Homo sapiens: one gene and its partner. The protein of the gene in region 2 purifies or fractionates together with the protein of the main gene of each other region. This does not show direct contact. Each region holds a gene or a part of one and is shown on either strand. Other genes may lie near its edges.

Evidence for each region. The genes of interacting proteins can lie anywhere in the genome.
Region 1: the proteins of HNRNPCL1 (region 2) and HNRNPUL2 purify together in Homo sapiens (affinity purification with mass spectrometry; 2 studies listed by BioGRID and IntAct, with this or other methods). This does not show direct contact.

What each region holds. Positions count from the first base shown.
Region 1 is NC_000011.10:62,714,784-62,717,694, forward strand, and holds part of HNRNPUL2 (heterogeneous nuclear ribonucleoprotein U-like protein 2), read right to left. Parts: intron 2,407-2,911; coding exon 2,206-2,406; intron 1,155-2,205; coding exon 1,081-1,154; intron 825-1,080; coding exon 717-824; intron 597-716; coding exon 516-596; 3' UTR 1-515.
Region 2 is NC_000001.11:12,846,851-12,850,296, reverse strand, and holds HNRNPCL1 (heterogeneous nuclear ribonucleoprotein C-like 1), read left to right. Parts: upstream 1-1,576; 5' UTR 1,577-1,616; intron 1,617-1,826; 5' UTR 1,827-2,007; coding exon 2,008-2,889; 3' UTR 2,890-2,920; downstream 2,921-3,446. UniProt on the Homo sapiens protein: May play a role in nucleosome assembly by neutralizing basic proteins such as A and B core hnRNPs.

The sequences.
Region 1 (2,911 bases), on a different chromosome or scaffold from region 2:
TATTTTCACTGTCCCAGTCACAAGCTCTCCCTCTGTCCCCACTCCTGCCTGCTCCTACCTGCTGTGGAGAGCACCCTCGCGCTGCCTCCCCACCCTCCCCACACCACCTCATCACTCTCCTTTACTTGGCTGCCAGTCCAGCTGCCTCAGAATGTCAGAAGGGTGCCATTTTCAGTTCTTTTCCTGTCTGACTGTAGGGTATAGAACAGGCAGCCCTAAGTGCTGCTTTCTGCGCAAATGTTTTTTGATTACAAATCTCTAACTAGGTTTGAAATGTTTTATAGAATAAGACAATATTCTTTTCAACAAACTTTAAAAAAAATGTACAGTTTTGTTGTTTGTTTCCACCTCCCCCCTCCCCCACCCCTGCTTGAGCACCCTCCCCCCCCACCACCCCTCCCCGGCAGCTCAGCCCCACCCCGACAGCCCCTGTTTTCCTTGGTTGTGTTTTGCGGGGGTGCCTGGCACCCCCAGAGATTCAGCTTCATGGCTGACAGGTGACCATGGCAGGGGCTTCACCGATACCCTTGGTACCCGTAGTAATTCCTGTAGTATCGGTCTCTGTCCTGGGGGTGGTGGTAGTAGTAACTCTGCCACTAGAAGAGAGGGAAACCCCATCACTTGGAGCCAGAGCTGGCTGAGGATGAAGAGGCATAACACTCATCCTTCTGCTCCTGCCCCCCTTCACCCTGTGTCTATCCCAAGAAGATACTCACATCCCGATTGTATTGTCTGTAATAGTCTCTGTATCTGTTGTACTCATAATCTCGCCCGTAAAATCGATCATAGTCTCCCCTGTATCGATCATAGAAATTACGGTAACCCTGAGAAAGGAAAAGAAAAAGGAGTGAAGGTTTATGGGTTTTTGGCAGCATGACCCACCGTGACCCCCTTTTAAATGCGACACATCTTAGCTCGATATTATAAATTGGTTTAATTTTCCCATAGTAAATCTTCCAGAACATATTAAATGGGCAAAACCCTAAGCCCTAAGAAAACAGGCAAACCACTCTGCTCCCCCAAGCCAACAGAATGGCTCTCACAGCCCAGAGTGAGGAGCAGAAGGAGAGCTGCACTCACCCCTCTGTTTCCAGGCTGCCCCCAGTACTGCTGCCCGTAGGCCCGGTTGTCGTAGCCTCGGCGCTGCCCGCCCACTGGAAGAGAAATGGAGAGCGCGCTCAGACAGCTGGCATGGGGTCCTGGCTCCACATCTGGGTGGAAATCAAAAACTTGGAGCCAAAGGCAATTCTGGGGGAATATGAGGCCTGCTTCGGCCAGGCTCACACATGTTAATTAAAGCACCAGCCAGGAACTTTTAAAAAGTCTGAGGGGGGAGGGCAGAGGAACAGAGACACAAGAAAACCAAGCCACTTTGTTTTTGAAGCTCCCCAATTCCTGCAAAACATTTAAGATGGCAAAAGGATACATGGCAGAGTTAGAAACATAAGGAAAAACTGCCATTCATAGAATCAGACTTTCAGCCCTGGAAGGGATTTCAGATATCGTATAACCCATACCTATCATTTTATGCAAAAGAAACAAAGTCTCTGTAATCAGCTCCTCAAGGGCGGGAACTGTCAGCATTTACAGTACCTAGCACATAGCAGGCACTCGGAAATTCTGCTGACTTAACAGTTACACACACACATACACACACATTTTTAAAGAGCAGTGAATGCACACTGGGGTTTTAACTGACAAACTAGACATTCAGGGGGAAAATTAATTCTACTAATAGCCTAACTTGCTTGGTTAAGTTCTTCCCCCCACAAAAAACACTGAATAAAGCATTCGCTTTCTTGTTAATCGAAATGACACAGAAGCAAGAAAACTGAAGATGAGAATTTGATTTCACTGCACAAATCCTTCAGATAAGACAGGAACAGTGACACTGGGAACCCATATGTTAAAATGAAAACTAGATAGATGAGAAAGCCCAAGCATTGCTTTTCAAAGAAACAAATACTTTTGTGAAAAGTAACTCTTTTTTAAAAAAGAGGATTTTTGTTGTTGTTGAAGAATTATGGAAAAAGCACAAGAAAAAGGCAGGGATAAAGAACACAGGAAGAAATAAGCTCCATGAAGAAGGCACTTCCGTATTGTTAATGACCTGACTTGGTTTCCTTGGCCTTCCCTTGCACATCTTGCTGTACTAAGCACAAAGAATGGACTGAAGTAGGGGGCTGGCAGGTCCCCAAGACTCACCATAGCCTTGGCCCCGGCTTCGGTTCTGCCGGTTACGCTTGTTTCGGTTGTTTCGGCGATTTGTCCGCTTCTCGGAGGGGGGCAGAAGCTTCCTTGCCTCCTCCTTGTACTTAGTGACAATGGGCTGAGCTTCCTCCTTCTCCAGCTCCCCATATGTCACCTCATCCATATAGTCGCATTTTTCAGGCAAAGAGAAGTTGGCTATAAGAGTAAGAGAGAAGCTTGTGGGCCTGAAAAGTGCATAGATGGGTAAGAACTCATTATGAAAACTCTACAAGAAGCATATGACTTTCTATGCCTCATCTATTACTGCACAAAAATGTGCTACGTTTATACCCACTCGCATCTAAATAATGACATTAACTTTTTCTACTCTAAGTTTTCCCTAAATTGTAACAGACCCAGGCAAAGGGCTATGTAGATTTACAAGTTCTTAAGTGATCTATAATAAATTAGGAGTGAACTGGGTTAAAGTTTCTCATCAGGACAGAAGCAGGTAACCAGAGGCTAAAAGTAACTGAGAAAGTTCTGGTGTTGGTCAGATAAGATGCTAAGAAATAACATTTTAAAAAGAGACTCAGAGATGGCCGGGCATGGTGGCTCACGCCTGTAATCCCAGCATTTTGGGAGGCCAAGGCAGGCGGACTGCTTGAGGTCAGGAGTTCGAGACCAGCCTGGCCAACATGGTGAAACCCTGTCTCTACTA
Region 2 (3,446 bases):
TGCAATTTTGACATGATTTTATTACAGGACCATCAGATTCCTATGCCTGCTGCACAGTAGCTTACCAATATTTTGAGACAGCAGAGTTTGCAGCAGAGAGTTTAATGATCACAGGGTGGCTAAATGAGAAGCTAGGAGGAGATCCTCAAATTCATCTCCCCAAGGAGGAGATCCACTGAGGGTTTCCAGTGGATCCTGGATAGCAAGGGGCTGGAAAGTTGATATAGAGTTAAGAGGGATGAAGTCATCAGGATGTCAAAACTGCATTCTTTGGTGCGTTGGTGCCTTGTAGGGCCCTTCAGATCAGCTGGCATCAGTACTTTCACTGACATGCAGAACGTAAGAATATCTCAAATGAAAAAGTTAATGTTTTACAAGGCTTAAATTGTTGTCTGCAGGGCAGTTAAGGGGAACTGTAATCTAAGGTCTAAATGATTTGGGGACAGTAGGCTGCCAGCAACCATGAGGAAGAAGGTCAGAGAGCAAGCTGACCTCATGGTGAATGCTGAATGCGCTGCAAGCTTGGTTTATTTTTGTTTCTCCCCCTCCCTTCTTCACTGATTAAATTTATAAAGTTTATAGGTATCGTTTCAATTTCTTCCAAAGAAGCCTTAACCTAAGCACTGAGACCACTCACGCCCTGAGTGGCACCTCTCTTCCACCAGCACGAGTGAAGAAACTGCTACCTTAGGTGATATAAAACCCACAAGACCATTCCATACATGGAGATCTTTATTCTTATTTTGTAGGGATGACTCCGTTTTTATAAAGTTGTTTTAACTAGAAAGCATTTTTATAATTTTGATGTGGCCAAAGATCTCCCCACAACACTACTTTCAGGTTTTATTTTTCTGTCTAATGTCCGGAACAGATCAACCCCTTCCCTGCCTCACACTCAGGACCTGAAGGCGACATAGCAGTAAAATTCCATCAGTGTTTGTGGATTTCATGAATGAATGCATTTTTTTTTTGACAAAATCTCCCTCCGTCACCCAGTCAGGAGGGCAATGGTGTAATCTTGGCTCACTGCAAACTCAGCCTCCAGGGTTCAAGGGATTCTCCCACCTCAGCCACATGAGTAGCTGGACTACAGGCAGCCACCATCGTGCCTGGCTAACTTTTCTATTTTTGTAGAGACAGGGTTTCACCATGTGGGCCAGGCGGGTCTTGAACTCCTGACATCAGGTGATCCACCTACCTTGGCCTCCTAAAGTGCTGGGATTACAGGTGTGAGCCACCTCATCTGGCCTTGAGTGAATGAATTCTTGACTTCCACTCTATCCCTAACGCTGTCAATTTCTTAATTCATGAAATGAATATGCATATGTGATATGAATGGATACCTGGTTCAATCCATTAGTCTTCGGACAGCCAAAAACCCAATCAGGATTAACTGAGTGGAGCTTCAGAAATGCAATCAGATATCGCTTTTTGATTGGAAGCTAGCAGCGGATATGTGGAGGGGCGTGGGTGGGAGTTGTGATTAGAAAGGTCAATAAAAGCTTCTAAAGACCCACAGGACAGACTCAAAGTCTTCAAGCCTGGAGTTCCTGCTTGGCTCTTCCTGAGGTCTGAGCTACAACTACAACCAGAGGTCTAAACTACAACCAGATCTGGTAAGTCACTAATTTCTGGAAGGACACTCCCATCTGACCTACAGTCAGCCGGTCTAGAACGGTGACAGTGCAGCCTACGACGGCACAGAACTATATCCTGTCTTTTTTTCTTTTTTTCATATGAACACTTTGAAGCTTTGATTTTTTTTCTAAATGCAATTTTGTCTTTATTTCAAAAATGTTGTTGTGCTTTTCTTTACATCATTTCAGAATTCTTGTTGGGAGCCATTTTGTGAAGAGACGAAGACTGAGCTGTTTTGGCTGCATTTCTGGCCTCGAGCCGCAGTCAGTTTCTCCCCGTAGAACCCGGCAGTAGGAGACTTAGAATCGAATCTCTTCTCCCTCCCGCCTCCTGTTTTTGGCTTTTTGAGAAACCTTATCATCCAACACAATGGCCAGCAACGTTACCAACAAGATGGATCCTCACTCCATGAACTCCCGTGTGTTCATTGGGAATCTCAACACTCTTGTTGTCAAGAAATCGGATGTGGAGGCGATCTTTTCCAAGTATGGCAAAATTGCGGGCTGCTCTGTTCATAAGGGCTTTGCCTTCGTTCAATATGATAAGGAGAAAAATGCCCGGGCTGCTGTAGCAGGAGAGGATGGCAGAATGATTGCTAGCCAGGTTGTAGATATTAACCTGGCTGCGGAGCCAAAAGTGAACCGAGGAAACGCAGGTGTGAAACGATCAGCAGCGGAGATGTACGGCTCCTCTTTTGACTTGGACTATGGCTTTCAACGGGATTATTATGATGGAATGTACAGTTTCCCAGCACGTGTACCTCCTCCTCCTCCCATTGCTCTGGCTGTAGTGCCCTCGAAACGTCAACGTCTATCAGGAAACACCTCACGAAGGGGCAAAAGTGGCTTCAATTCTAAGAGTGGAAAGCGGGGATCTTCCAAGTCTGGAAAGTTGAAAGGTGATGACCTTCAGGCCATTAAGCAGGAGTTGACCCAGATAAAACAGAAAGTGGATTCTCTCCTGGAAAACCTGGAAAAAATTGAAAAGGAACAGAGCAAACAAGAGGTAGAGGTGAAAAATGCTAAGTCAGAAGAGGAGCAGAGCAGTAGCTCCATGAAGAAAGATGAGACTCATGTGAAGATGGAGTCTGAGGGGGGTGCAGAAGACTCTGCTGAGGAGGGGGACCCACTGGATGATGATGTTAATGAAGATCAGGGGGATGACCAGCTGGAGTTGATCAAGGATGATGAAAAAGAGGCTGAGGAAGGAGAGGATGACAGAGACAGCACCAATGGCCAGGATGACTCTTAAGCACATAGTGGGGTTGAGAAATCTTATCCCATTGTTTCTTTACCTAGGAGCTTGTCTAACAACAAATTTTTCACCAGATCCTCTCCCTTAGTATCTTCAGCACATGCTTACTGTTCTCCCCATCTTTGTCCTTCCCATGTTCATTAATTCATATTGCCCTGTGCCTAGTCCCATTTTCACTTCCCTTGACACCCCTAGTAGTTGTCCTAAGTCTTACCCTGTAATTTTTCCTTTTAATTTTGACACCTCTTTATGACTTAACAGTAAAAAGGATGTATGGTTTTTATCAACTGTCTCCAAAATAATTTCTTATTTTGTTTATTTAGTTTATTTATTTGTTAGTTTAGTTTAGTTTTGTTTATTTGTTATTTAGTTTACTGAGAATGATGTTTTCCAATTTCATCCATGTCCCTACAAAGGACATGAACTCATCATTTTTTATGGCTGCATAGTATTCCATGGTGTATATGTGCCACATTTTCTTAATCCAGTCTATCATTGTTGGACATTTGGGTTGGTTCCAAGTCTTTCCTATTGTCAATAATGCCGCAATAAAC